Homo sapiens: one gene and its partners. The protein of the gene in region 2 interacts with the protein of the main gene of each other region in a pairwise test. Each region holds a gene or a part of one and is shown on either strand. Other genes may lie near its edges.

The links.
Region 1: the proteins of RUFY1 (region 2) and GIT2 interact in a two-hybrid assay, tested with the Homo sapiens proteins (one large-scale study listed by BioGRID and IntAct).
Region 3: the proteins of RUFY1 (region 2) and ITSN2 interact in a two-hybrid assay, tested with the Homo sapiens proteins (one large-scale study listed by BioGRID).
Region 4: the proteins of RUFY1 (region 2) and RAB3IP interact in binary tests that used the Homo sapiens proteins (3 or more experiments, as listed by UniProt).

Annotation. Positions count from the first base shown.
Region 1 is NC_000012.12:109,986,369-109,989,868, forward strand, and holds part of GIT2 (ARF GTPase-activating protein GIT2), read right to left. Parts: intron 3,435-3,500; coding exon 3,322-3,434; intron 2,701-3,321; coding exon 2,595-2,700; intron 1-2,594. UniProt on the Homo sapiens protein: GTPase-activating protein for ADP ribosylation factor family members, including ARF1.
Region 2 is NC_000005.10:179,595,554-179,599,053, reverse strand, and holds part of RUFY1 (RUN and FYVE domain-containing protein 1), read right to left. Parts: intron 3,151-3,500; exon of another isoform or gene 2,493-3,150; coding exon 2,373-2,492; intron 2,233-2,372; exon of another isoform or gene 2,093-2,232; intron 802-2,092; exon of another isoform or gene 699-801; intron 363-698; coding exon 233-362; intron 1-232. UniProt on the Homo sapiens protein: Activating adapter involved in cargo sorting from early/recycling endosomes. Regulates retrieval of proteins from endosomes to the trans-Golgi network through interaction with the dynein-dynactin complex.
Region 3 is NC_000002.12:24,207,037-24,210,536, reverse strand, and holds part of ITSN2 (intersectin-2), read left to right. Parts: intron 1-503; coding exon 504-719; intron 720-1,315; coding exon 1,316-1,437; intron 1,438-2,217; coding exon 2,218-2,300; intron 2,301-3,500.
Region 4 is NC_000012.12:69,745,360-69,748,859, forward strand, and holds part of RAB3IP (rab-3A-interacting protein isoform alpha 1), read left to right. Parts: intron 1-3,500. UniProt on the Homo sapiens protein: Guanine nucleotide exchange factor (GEF) which may activate RAB8A and RAB8B. Promotes the exchange of GDP to GTP, converting inactive GDP-bound Rab proteins into their active GTP-bound form.

The sequences.
Region 1 (3,500 bases), on a different chromosome or scaffold from region 2:
GGCCTGTAGTCCCGGCACTTTGGGAAGCTGAAACAGGCGGATCATGAGGTTAGGAGTTCGAGACCAGCCTGGCCAACGTGGTGAAACCCCGTCTCTACTAAAGATACAAAAAATGGCCGGGCGTGGTGGCTTACGCCTGTAATCCCAGCACTTTGGGAGGCCGAGGTGGGCGGATCACGAGGTCAGGAAATCGGGACCATCCTGGTTAACACAGTAAAACCTCGTCTCTACTAAAAATACAAAAAAATTAGCCGGGTGTGGTGGCGGACGCCTGTAGTCCCAGCTACTCAGGAGGCTGAGGCAGGAGAATGGCATGAACCCGGGAGGCGGAGCTTGAAGTGAGCCAAGATTGCGCCACTGCACTCCAGCCTGGGCCACAGAGCAAGACTCCGTCTCAAAAACAAACAAACAAACAAACAAACAAAAAAAAACCAAAAGATTAGCTGGGCCTGGTGGCACGTGCCTGTAATCCCAGCTACTTGGGAGGCTGAGGCAGGAGAATCACTTGAACCTGGGAGGCGGAGGTTGTAGTGAGCCAAGATCATGCCATTGCACTACAGCCTGGACTACAGAGCGAGACTCTGTCTCAAAAAAATAAAAAATAAAAAATAAAAATAAAAATAAAAAAATTAACCCATCATGATCAAGTAGGCTTTTTTGCTGAGATTCAAGGCTGGCTCAACATACACAAATCAATAAATGTAATTTGCCACATCAATAGAAGTAAAAGCAGGCCAGGCGCGGTGGCTCCTGCCTGTAATCCCAGTACTTTGGGAGGCCGAGGCGGGAGGATCACGAGGTCAGGAGATCGAGACCATCCTGGCTAACATGGTGAAACCCTGTCTCTACTAAAAATACAAAAAAAATTAGCCGGGTGTGGTGGTGGGCACCTGTAGTCCCAGCTACTTGGGAGGCTGAGGCAGGAGAATGGCATGAACCTGGGAGGCAGAACTTGCAGTGAGCTGAGATCGCACCACTGCACTCCAGCTTGGGCGACTGAGCAAGACTCTATCTCAAAAATAAATAAAAATAAATAAATAAATAAATAAATAAATAGAAGCAAAAGCAAAAACCACATGATCATCTCAATAGATGCAGAAAATGTTTTCTTTTTTTGAGACAGGGTCTTGCTCTGTTGTCCAAGCTGGAGTGCCATGGTGTAATCTCAGCTCACTGCAACCTCCACCTCCTGGGCTCAAGTCATCCTCCAACCTCAGCCTCCCAGGTAGCTGGTACTACAGGCACGGCCACCATACCCGGCTAAAATTGTTATATTCTTTGTAGAGACGGGGTTTCGCCATGTTGCCCAGGCTGGTCTTGAACTTCTGAGCCCAAGTGATCTGCCAGTCTCAGTCTCCCAAAGTGCTGGGATTACAGGAGTGAGCCATCGCACCCGGCCAAAAAGTAATAAAAAAAGTTCTGAATAAGTAAGTTCTCATGCTCTGTGTGAGTAAGCATTTATCCAAGGCAGCGCTTTGAAAATATGCACATTTCTTACAGCATCTCTCAAAAACATGCGAAGGCCCACATAAAGAAAACCACCTCACTCGTTTTACAAGTATCATAAACCATTCTGTGTACTATAGCTTTGAGTCACACATTGCTTTCTGAAGATCATACTTACTGTTCAACCTGGAAACCTGAAGAAGTCCCCTTCCTTTAGTACTTTTTCTAGTCCTTATTAAAAAGAAACAATTGTCCTATAATCTTTCTAGTCCCTTCTAGAAACAACTCTGAGATGGTTCCTATTTCAAAGTTAAACAAACAAAAAACTTATCAAAATATAATTTAAAAGCCATATTGGAAAAACACAAACAGCCTTCCAGAGACTTACTTTTCCTCTTTGCCCTGAACCTCCACTATATGAATGGCTGCCATTTGAATTCAGATTAAAGACGAAACCGACTGACAAAAAAGCTATTAATTAATGAATGTGCAGAAATGAGTTTTTGTTTTTCTTTCTTTAAAAACTTTTTTCAGCCTGGGCAACATAGCAAGAACCCGTCTCTACAAAAAATAAAAAATATTAGCTGGGTATGGTAATGCGCCTGTAGTTCCAGCTACTCGGGAGGCTGAGGTGGAAGGATTGCTAGAGCCTGGATGGTCAAGGCTGCAGTGAACCGTGATTGCACCACTGCACTCCAGCCTGGGCAACAGAGCAAGACCCTGTCTCAAAAAAAACAAACGAAAAACAAAAAAACCCTGGCCGGGTGCAGTGGCTCACGCTTGCAATCCCAACACTAGGAGGCCGAGGCAGACGGATCACCTGAGCTCAGGAGTTCGAAACCAGCCTGGCCAACATGGTGAAACCCCGTCTCTACTAAAAATACAAAAATTAGCTGGGCATGGTGGCATGCGCCTGTAATCCCAGCTACCTAGGAGGCTGAGGCAGGAGAATCGCTGGAACCCGGGAGGCAGAGGCTGCAGGGAGCCAAGATCGCGCCACTGTACTCCCGCCTGGGTAACAGAGACTCTGTCTCAAAAAAAAAAAAAAAAAAAAAAAGCCCACAACCAGACTTTTTTTTCGTTTTTTCAAATAAAACAATATGCTGTCTCAGCCCGCTCTTTTAGGGATTTTAAAAGGTGTGACCCACCTTGCTAAGATCTTTGGCAGTCACACTATCGTCATCCCGGCAGGGCAAGCGATGGACGAACGCTAACATCTGATACTTGGCTCTGATGAATTCCGCTTTATTGGGACTGGTTCAAAAACAAAAAAGAAAACAGTTCACTCGTTCAGATACAACAATCCCCATTCTTTGTACTGTAAAAAGAAGAGGAAGTGACCCACATCCCCCACTTGAGAATAAAATGAACAATGCTCAAGTAAGTTTCAGCAAGGTTTAAGACCTGCAGTTTGAAAACATACATTAGTTATTATAATGGCTGGGACTCCAGAGTACCTGCTTTTTATAGTAGCCCTCTTCTCTGTGTAATTGTCTGAACTGATTTAGCAACTTTGGGAGAAAGCAGCATTTAGTCCCATCTTATAAGTGAGGCAACAGGCAGACGGGTGCCCAGACCTAGATTTCTGGTCTGATCGCCTCTTATTTGAGTATAAGTTTAAATCTGATTACATTTACAGACTCCAAGCCATGGTTTCCAACTGAGGAAGCCACTTACTCCTGCTGGGTGGCCATGCTAAACAGATGGTCCTGCCCCACCCCATTCTGCATTTCTAATAGCAAAGAACCTGATGCACAACTAGGGTAACCCCCTCCTCTGCTGCCCTTGCGGAGACTGACCAAAAATAGCTGCACTCCTTTCAGTGGGCCCCATTTGTTATGAAGAAATAAAAGTATTTATAAACATTCCACTCACTGTACTTTATCCTGTGGATTAGCTTTACGTCTTCCACTCATAATAGACGCAGGGTCCAGCAAAGAATGCTCCCATATAGAGTTAGCACCGTTATTATACAAGGTCTCAACCATCTAAAACCAAGCAGGATGACATAAGACTTTAATTTCTTTTCACAAATATTCAATGGGGATCAGTGA
Region 2 (3,500 bases):
TGCTTTATTCTCTTCATGGCACTTGCCTCTATCTGAGCTGCCAGCAGGCTTAGTGGTTTATGATTTGTCTTTGTCTTATGCTCCTAAAACAGGAGCTCCCTAACAGCCTCCCCACACCCTGGAGCCGCCTGGCCCCCACACAAAGGGTGCGGGGAGAGGAGCCTGCCCGGAGCATGTTAGGGGTTTCTGGAGGCTGCCAGAGGCTCTCCTCTCCCGGGATGGCCCACCTCACCTTTTTCAGTCCTTCCACTTGTTGCAGCTCCATCCTGAGTAGAGAGGAAGTGTCTTTCTCGTGCTGTAATTCGCGCTGAAGAGCCTGTCTTTGCTCTTTTTCTGATTTCAATTCTTTCTCCAGGCTTGAGCTGTTTTCCCAAAATGAACTTGAGTTAGTCTCAGTGGGAGACTTTCACGGAAGATTCACAACCCAATTCACCGCCCAGGAAACAGGGAAGTCTCTGAATTGCCTCTTGAGCATCTAAAGCCTTCGGCAACGCTTCCCTCTCCTCCAGGGTCACCTGCCCTTCCACAAGAAAGAGCAGGAACCAGGGAGAGAAAAGCCTGCAGGCACACACTTGACACTTACGCAGGGGAGAAGGAAGAGAGCTCTAGAACACTTAGACCACATAAGCAGAACCCTCCCGACATGGAGACCTGAGGAAAGGAAGCTCAAAATTCGTTCTTTTCTTTTTTTGAGACAGGGTCTAGCTCTGTCACCCCAGCTGGAGTGCAGTGGCGCAACCTCAGCTCACTGCAGCCTCGACCTCCTGGGCTCAAGTGATCCTCCCGCCACAGCTTCCCAAGGTGCAGAGATTACAGGCATGAGCCACCTCACTGGCCAATTCATTCTGCTTTTTGTTTTTTTTTGAGACGGAGTCTCGCTCTGTCGCCCAGGCTGGAGTGCAGTGGCACAATCTTGGCTCACTGCAACCTCTGCCTCCTGGGTTCAAGCTAGTCTCCTGCCTCAGCCTCCCTAGTAGCTGGGATTACAGGCACACGCCACCACGCCCAGCTAATTTTTTGTATTTTTAGTAGAGATGACGTTTCACCATGTTGGCCAGGCTGGTCTTGAACTCCTGACCTCGTGATCTCCCTGCCTCGGCCTCCCAAAAGTGCTGGGATTATGGGCGTGAGCCACCGCGCCCGGCCTCATTCTGCTTTCTACAACCTACAGCCAGACTGACAATGAAGGATCCTGGAGGGAGAAGGCCAGGAGGGAGCCTCAGCCTGAAGCTGACTCTGCCCTTTACCAGCTGAGTGGCCCTGGGGGCACTGCTGGACCGCCTGGAGTCTGCTCTCTCTTTGTGGGAATAAAGATGTCTCTTCTCTCTTCTCTCAACATCAGGCTTTTAACTTGGCATATATATTATCTCAAAAAATCTATAGGCCAGGCACGGTGGTTCACACTTGTAATCCTAGCATTCTGGGAGGCCGAGACGGGTGGATCACTTGAGGCCAGAAGATTGAGACCAGCCTGGCCAACATGGCAAAACCCTGTCTCTAATAAAAATACAAAAATTAGGCTGGGCGCAGTGGCTCACGCCTGTAATCCCAGCACTTTGGGAGGCCGAGATGGGAGGATCACGAGGTGAGGAGATCGAGACCATCCTGGGTTAACACAGTGAAACCCCGTCTCTACTAAAAATACAAAAAATTAGCCAGGTGTGGTGGCTGATGCCTGTAGTCCCAGCTGCTCGGGAGGCTGAGGCAGGAGAATGGCGTGAACCCGGGAGGCAGAGGTTGCAGTGAGCCGAGATCGCGCCACCGCACTCCAGCCTGGGCAAGAGAGTGAGACTCGGTCTCAAAAAAAAAACAAAACAAAACACAAACACAAAAATTAGCCGGGTGTGTTGATGTACACCTGTAGTCCCAGCTACTCAGGAGGCTGAGGCACAAGAATCGCTTGAGCCCAGGAGGTGGGGGTTGCAGTGAGCTGAGACTGCACCACTGCACTCCAGCCTGGATGACAGAGTGAGACTTAAAAAATAAAAAATCTGTAGATGAACTGTGCACAAAATTATATGAAGCTTGCATCAGCAAAGGCTAGGTGAAAGGTGACTTTCTGTTCAACACTGACAAAGCTGTTTCTTTTTAGAAAGGGTGGTTAAGGGTGATACAGGCTGTGACCTGGTACCATGGTTTGAGAGTGGCCAGATCTTCTGGAGGCGAGCTGGACCACGTGAGGAGCCCTGTGGGGAGGGAGCTCCCTAGGGATAACATACGAACCCTGCAGGGGTGAGTGGTGAAGCAGGATACCACCTGCCCCCCCGCCCCCCCTCCTCCCGTTCGTGCTGAAGCAGGATACCACCTGTCCCCAGTTCTTCCCAGTCCCTCCTGAGCCACACCCCAGCCCAGGCTCCCTGCAGGGCCCCTACCATTGCTCGTGCAGCTGGGAGAGCTGCAGCTGCAGGGCGCCGATCCTCCCGCCCAGCTCCTGCTGCAGCTTGTGGCTCCGCTCCTCAGCCCCCTGCCTCGCCCGCTCCGAGTGCTGCAACCTGGATGCGACACCAGCAAGAGTGCAAATGAAGCAAATCTTTGTAAGGAAAGGATGACTTTTGCTGGCTGAAATTCATTTTTAAAATTACCATACAGTAAAATTAACTCTTGTGAGTTTTAACACGTGGAGATTCAGCTCCACCACAATCAGAATACAGGACGGTCCCACCACTCCCAAAACTCCCCACCTCAGCCCCTGGCAACCACTCATCTGTCCTGCAACAATATGGCTTTGGCTTTTTGAGAATGTAATCTCAATGTAATTATACATTATATAACCTTGAGACTGACTTTTTCTCAGAATAATGTCTTGGAGATCAATCCAAGTTTCCATGTGTATCAATGGTTCATGCCTTTTGTTTCCTCTCTGAACGTCCTGAAAGGGCAGTGGTTCATTCCTTTCTACGGCTGAGTCATACTTCACCGCACAGACGTACCACTTTGTTTATCCATCACCCAATGCAGAACATTGGGATTGCTTCTAGCTTTTGGCAGTTATGAACGGAGCTGCTATAAACATATGTACTAGTTTTGGTGTAGACATAAGTTTCATTTCTATTTGGATCATATGGTAAGAGGACGTTTAGCTTCTTGAGAAACTGTTTTCCTGAGTGGTTGCACCATTTTGCATTCCTACCAATAAAGTATGAGAGATCCATTAGCTCCGTGTCCTCATCAGCACTTGGTATTGTCATTAAAGAAACGGTAGCTGGCCAGGTGTGGTGGCTCATGCCTATAATCCCAGCACTTTGGGAGGCCTAGGTGGGCAGATCACCTGAGGTCGGGAGTTCGAGACCAGCCTGATCAATATGGAGAAACCCCATCTCTACAAAAATACAAAATTAGCCGGGCATGGTGGCAGGCACCTGTAATCCCAGCTACTTGGGAGGCTGAGGCAGGAGAATTGCTTGAACCTGGGAGGTAGAGATTGCGGTGAGCTGAGATCGCACCATTGCACTCTAGCCTGGGCAATGAGAGCGAAACTCTGGCTCAAAAAAAAAAAAAAA
Region 3 (3,500 bases), on a different chromosome or scaffold from region 2:
GGGTTGGAGCGATTCTCTGGCCTCCATCTCCCAAGTAGCTGGGACTACAGGCATCTGCTACGATGCCCAGCTAATTTTCGTATTTTTAGTAGAGCTGGGGTTTCACCATGTTGGCCAGGCTGGTCTTGAACTCCTGGCGTCAAGTGATCCTCCCGCCTCTGTCTCCCAACAGTGCTGGGATTGCAGGCATGAAGGGCATTCCTTCTTGGATTGTCATCTTCCTTTCTCCTAAGGAGAGAACACTGGGATTTTTTGTTTTGAGTTCTTTGAATTCAGCTGGTAGAATCAGTGTTCTGTGGCTAGAAGTAATGATTTTCACTGGGCCAGTTTGGACTCTGAAGAGTAATGTATTTAAGGATCTTTCATGCAAAGTGAATGATTCTAGCCACATTCCCACCTAGAAAACTCCACCACAGTATCCTCAGGCCCAGGGCACTGGCCTCTCAGGGGCACTGGATGGTTTGTGCCGGGATTTAAAAAGTGAAATTTTCTTTCTCTTTAAGCAACTTATTTTCAACTCTCTCACCAACTGCCTGGGGCCCCGGAAGCTCTTACACAGTGGGAAATTATACAAGACCAAGAGCAACAAGGAACTGCACGGATTCCTCTTCAATGACTTCCTGCTTCTTACCTACATGGTCAAGCAGTTTGCTGTTTCCTCTGGCTCTGAGAAACTTTTCAGCTCGAAGTCCAATGCTCAATTCAAAATGTATAAAACGGTGAGTATCACGCGTCTGGGGGTAGCATCAGGGGCCTAATGAGGTGTTGCCTCTATCTTAAGGCCTTCCTGGCAGACCCTGAGCTGGCCTTACGGGACCCTCCTCACCTGGTTCCAGATCGCTCGTGCTTCCTTTGCTGCTTCCCACGGGAAGGGCCCCATGCAGCTGGGCACTCCCCACCTGCCACAGGCCATCAGCCAGATTCCAGCTGAGATTCTGGCTTCCTCCTGGCCAGCGTGACACCTGGGCTCACCACTGTGTGCATTCAGCATTGGGTCTCTGTAAGCCGAGCCCCAGCACAGCACCAGCGTTGCTAGCAGAGAGCCTTTTGCACCAGCCGTCATGGGCGCTTGGAGCTCCTGTCCCCACCCAGTCCCAACACCTGACCCACCTCGATAATGACTTTTCCAGAAATGGAGGCTTCATTGTTCTTACAAATGGAGGTTTCATTTGTTCTGTGTAGAAGACCTTAGACGCTAGACCCCTTTCTCCTTCTCAACAAGGCTCTTCAGAACAAACAGAACTCTCTCTGGACATAGGCGGGTGGAGTGTTCTAGCCCATCTCACAGCCTGTGTTTTGGCCCTAATTCTTTCAGCCCATTTTCCTGAATGAAGTCTTGGTGAAACTGCCCACAGACCCTTCCAGCGATGAGCCTGTCTTCCACATTTCCCACATTGATCGGGTCTACACCCTCCGAACAGACAACATTAATGAGAGGTCAGTCCTGACCATGTGTGGCCTGCCTTGAACTCTGGGAGAAGGCCTGGACGTCTCCCTCTGCCATAAACCCATCTCCAGCCGTGCTTAAGCCCCACTAATTCTGTATCCTGAACCTCTCTTAACACATCCCCTCTGCTCCAGTCCCATGGTAGGCCTTGGTCACTGCAGCTGCCTCCTAACATGCTTCCCGGCTTCTAGTCTCTCCCCACACCACTCAGCAGCCTTCCCAAATGGCAGATCAGCACCTGAGGCCCTGCTACAGTCCCTGCAGGGGCTGCCCGCAGGCGACAGCCCACTGTGCTTTGCTGGTTTCCGAGGCCTCCTTGGGCCACAGGCCTCAGCCCTCGTCCCTCCACCTGCAGACTTTCGCCCCTCAGGCGCCCTTGTGTGGGTGCCATCCCCGCTGTTCCCAGCTTCCTTCAGGCTGCAGCTCCAACAGTGCCTCCGCGGCGCCAACCCGGGGGGTGCTGCTGCTCCTCTGTGTGCGCTAGAACCCCTCGTGACAGGTATCATCCGTGGGGCCAATGCATCATCTGTCTCCAGGTCCCAGCGCCTTGCGAGTGCCTGGCATTTTGTGGTCAGCCAAGAAGGGTCACTACCAGCTCTCATACTCCATTAGCATAAGCATCTTTCAGTTGACTAATATCAGGTCTTTGATAGGAAACTTGTGAAAGTTGAGGTTAGCAAAAGACTGAAGAACATGTGCAGAGCTCTGGGGCTCCACGCTGACCTGTGAGGGTGGGATGCGGCCAACGGCTGCCCCTGCTTCTCCCGTAGGACCGCCTGGGTGCAGAAGATCAAGGCGGCGTCTGAGCAGTACATCGACACCGAGAAGAAGAAGCGTGAGAAAGCTTACCAAGGTATCAGGGTGCCCGGAGGGTGGGACGCAGCCCCCAGGGGCCCTAGGAATGCCGGCCACTGCTCCTGCAGTCAGGCTGATGATATAGGGACGGGTCTGAAAGACCAGACCTGCTGCGGGATCAGACCAGAGAGCCCTCCCCTCTTGAAGCTACTACTGCAAACCTCCCTGGGGCTCCTGCCCACACAGACACGGGCTGGCAGTGCCAGCTCCGGGACCTCCCTCTCTGCACCACCTCTATCCCCCCCACTCCACTGCACCTTCTCCACTCCTTTCTCTCCATGACTCACCTCACCTCTGCTTGGGCTGTGGTGCTCCATTACATGCCACACCTGTGGTCTGTCTCCCTTCAGCTCCTGAGCAGCCACTGCTCCTCCTCACCCTCCTCTAGGGCCTGCCATCCACCCTCTCCCTTTGCAGCCAGGGGGCCTAGACCCTAAGTCTGCCCTCTCCCCATCCTTCTGCCCCTGCCTCCTCCCCCTTCTCACTTCACCAGACTTCAGTCCACGTCCTGTCCCCACCAGTGACACCAGTGGCCTAGTTAGTGGCTCAGCTCACTTTCCCTGCCCCAGCTCCCTGCACTGATGGCAGTCACTGAGGCGCTGCCTTCCCTCTGGACCCCATGGCCGCCTTCCCAGTTCTTCTTCCACCCTTGCCCAGGCCTCTCCCCGACCTCTGTAGCGCTCTCCCTCGGGGACCCCACCGACCCCCAGCTTCAGGGTCAGGCTAGCCACACTCTCCCAAGCCCGCGCCTCTGAACAGCACCCTCCAGAGAACCACCTGCCCCGCTGCTCCCACATCACACATCGGCTTTTCCCAAGGGACCACCAGCCTCCTTCCAGCAGCAGCTCCTCCTGGGACCCTCTGTGGACAGTAGTGTGGTCCCTGGCCACCCAGGCCCCTCCCTGGCACCTCACACCTGGTCAGCTGCACTGCAGTCCTCCTCCCTCGCCACTTTCCCATCGCCCTTTCCTGTCCCCGTATCACAGGCCCCCGATCTCCCACCCAGGCTGCAGCACAAGGCTCTCTTTCCTCTCTGCCACCCATCCTCTTCATTTCTGGAGTATTCTTTTTTCCAGAGCTGCTCTTATACCTCTTCCTGCTGAAGTATCTTCCCTATTGCCTCCCAAATTAACGACACATTTCTTACCCCACACTCAGGGCCCATCCCCACTACTACCTGCCACCCAGCCCCATCCCT
Region 4 (3,500 bases), on a different chromosome or scaffold from region 2:
TTTAAAAAAATACACAGGAATATGGGTACTATAGTAAATTCAAGTTTCTGTTTATTTTGATTTATGTGCTGTTTTTTTTTTTCCAAGTCCTGTAAGGAGCTGAATAAGTATTAAATTCTGGCATAGTAACAAAACAGAGGAGGAAATGATAACAAAAATAATATAGGGGAAAATAATAGAACACAAAGCAATAGCAAATGCTCATTTCAATAGCAGTGCTTTAGAGAAACTTCAGTTTTGTCTTTGTGAAAGTAAGAGAAGGGTTCAGAGATTAAACATTATTATTCTGTTTGGATTGTTCACTTCTTTTTTTTTAAACTTTAAGTTCTGGGATACCATGTGCAGAACATGCAGGTTTGTTACATAGGTATACACGTGCCATGGTGGTTTACTGCACCCAGGATTGTTCACTTCTTAGAGATCCTTTGCTGTGCTTTAACCTTTATTCCCATCTCCCTACTCCCTATCCATTTCAGCTTCTAAGTGTATCTCAGATGTAGTGGAGTTAGGTGTTAGAGTCAGACACACCAGAGTTTGAATACTAGCTCTGTTACTTTTTGTGTATTTGACAAAATTAATCTCTCTCAGCCTCTTTTTTTTATATATCTGTAAAGTAGGGATAAGAACCATTTCAAATGAATGCTCTGAAGATTAACTGGAATAATTGTGTGTTTGTGAATAAATATAAATGAAGCTGTTCTGAATGTTTTCCATACGTATATATGCCTCCATCCCCTCATTCCCAGTGCATGACCTTGGCATTAGATCAGACAGTAATCGTTTAACCAGCCTCTAGTCTCCAGTGAAGTTCTCATTGCCTTGGGAGTCATTTTTAAATGACTACATTACAATACATCTATACTTTCTAAAATGTAGATCTCACCATCTCTTCAGGATAAACTTTAAGCAACATTTTCTCTTTTAAAGAAGGCTTTTAATGGTCTGTCACAGTCTGCCTCTCCAGCCTGCTTTTCTGTTACTGTCTCCTTTGTTAGTTTTGTTAGTGCCAGACCCTTATTCCCTGACTGTCCTATCCTATTCCCCTTGCCCATCTACTGGACTTGTATTCAGCACTGAAAATCTGACTTATATTTTACTTCTCTTTGAGACATTCTCCTCTTCCCTCTTCCCTCCCCACAACCCTCAGAATAATCATGCCGTGGCTCGTAGAGGCTGTGTGCCATCTCTTTGGTCCATTTGTATCTGTATTCTTAGCACTTAGTATCAGGATTTGCCCGGAGGTGTTGAAGCTGGCAATCATCCTTCCATTCCAACAAGAATAAATATAATTTATCACATATATGTATGAAATAAATGTATTTAATATGTATAATAAATGTTGAAGGTTTTTAAAGAAGTGATGGAATTTGTAACTAATTCATGGAATTTATAACAGTTCAATTCATTATATGCTATTGAAGTAGCAGTCTCATTTTTAATCTCAGAAACTGTTTCTTTCATAATTCATGTTAAATTAAGAAGTCATTTGGGAATTTAAAAAGCATCTGGACTTTCCTCCCTGCCCCCCTTCCACAACTGTCTGTGAATAAATTGAAAGAGGAAAATAGTGCTTACATAATCTTAAACCTTTTCTTTTGACATGTCTTGGAATATTTAATTTCTATTATTGTGATAATACAAGTAAAACAAAATTATACTACAGGATTTATAGATGTTTACTTTTTTTGAGGAAAATCACTCAAAACAATAAGCTTTTAAACCCAAACTCAACAATCATTGCTTTTTGTTCTTAGTGATAGTGCTTGTGCTGATACAATATGATCAAAATATTTGGCCAGTATTAGGAAATGTCCTAGAGATGATTATAATAGTAAGAGCCAGTCTTAATTGGTAAGTGCCAGATATGGTGCTAAGCTCTTTAATTCTCATGACTACCTTAGGAGATAGGTACAGTTTTCTCCCCTTGCCCTTTCGTGTGTGTGTGTGTGTGTGTGTGTGTGTGTGTGTGTGTGAGAGAGAGAGAGAGAGAGGATCTTTCTCTGTTGCTCAGGCTGGAGTGCAGTGGCACAATCACAGTTCGCTATAGCCTCAACCTTCCTGGCTCAGGAGTAGCTGGGACCACAGGCGTATGCCACCACACTCTGCTAATTTTTAAATTTTTTGTAGAGATGGGGTCTCGCTATGTTGCTTTTGGTTGTTGCTTAAACATCTTGGGCACAAGCAACCGTCCTGTCTTGGCCTTCCAAAGTTCTGAGATTACAAGAACCACTGTGCCTGACCTGTCATCTCCATTTTTAGATGAGAAATTGAGACTTAGATCTTCAGGTCACTTTATTAGTAACTGGTGAAGCCAAGATTTGAGACTGATTCCAGAGTACAAGCTATTTCATGAGATAGTGAATACTGGTTAAGTTACCCTGTTGGCTTTTCTTCTAGTAGACAAGTACATTCCTTTATCTACCAGGATTATTTGATCCAATTCTACACTGAAATAGATGAAGATATTTGGGCTCAGATAAGTTACCTGCCCAGGTTCATAGATAGATCTCAGAGCTTGATCAGGAGCCTTAGCTTTCTTCTTCAGGTACTGATGCTTCTACTCTGCTGTGTTGCCATATTACCTCCTTTGTTGGAAATGATTTACTTTCTGAGTGTAGTGCTTTGAGGAATTTTAGTAAACATAGAATTCAAATTATTTAATTTTCACATATATTAAATTGATATGAAAAAAGATAAAAATCACAGCTTTAGTTTTTTTTTTTTTTTCTAAAATTAAAATTCTATGTTTCCCATTTGTCAAGGTAAGTCCAAATTAGGGGAATGTGCTTTTTGTGGAAAAATGGATTTTATTTTTTCTTTTGGACTACTGATATAAATCAAGTTGCTAGATTTCATTTAAAATATGTATATGCATTTTATTCATGTTCTTCAGATGTTTCATTGAAAATATTTTCCCATTAATTCTGATTTCTTGAGTTGTCCTAGGGATGGCTTTTGTTTTCAAGAAACATTTTAAAAATTCACTTTAATTAGAAAAAGTAAATTTCATAAGTTATTAGGATCTTTCTAGGCATTTATTAAATGAGTTAATATGTATGAAATTCTTAGCACCACTATCTGACAACATAGTTAACCTTCAGTAAAGATTGGCTGTTGTTTTTGCTGTGATAGTACTGATTTCGAGAAAGAAAAATTAACAGGAAATGCATATTAGGGATCAGAAGCAAATTGTTTTGATCAACTTTTTCTTGTGGTCTGCAGTCTGCTTTATTACCTGGAGCTCAGTAATAAGGCCAGCCAAGTTGTGTTGGTGATTCACCCATAAGAATTTAATGTGATCATCTTTTTTACATATTGGTCATGATCCTTGACAAGTTTAATTTACTAATTGGGATAATCAGTTGAAATTAGTTCTTTTTGAATCACTCATTGCTTAATGCGAAAGATACTACTGCTTAAAAATAGTAGTTTATTTTACTCTTATAAAGACGTATGTGAAATAAATCTTAAAGCTTCTATGTATTTAAAGGGCAAAAGAT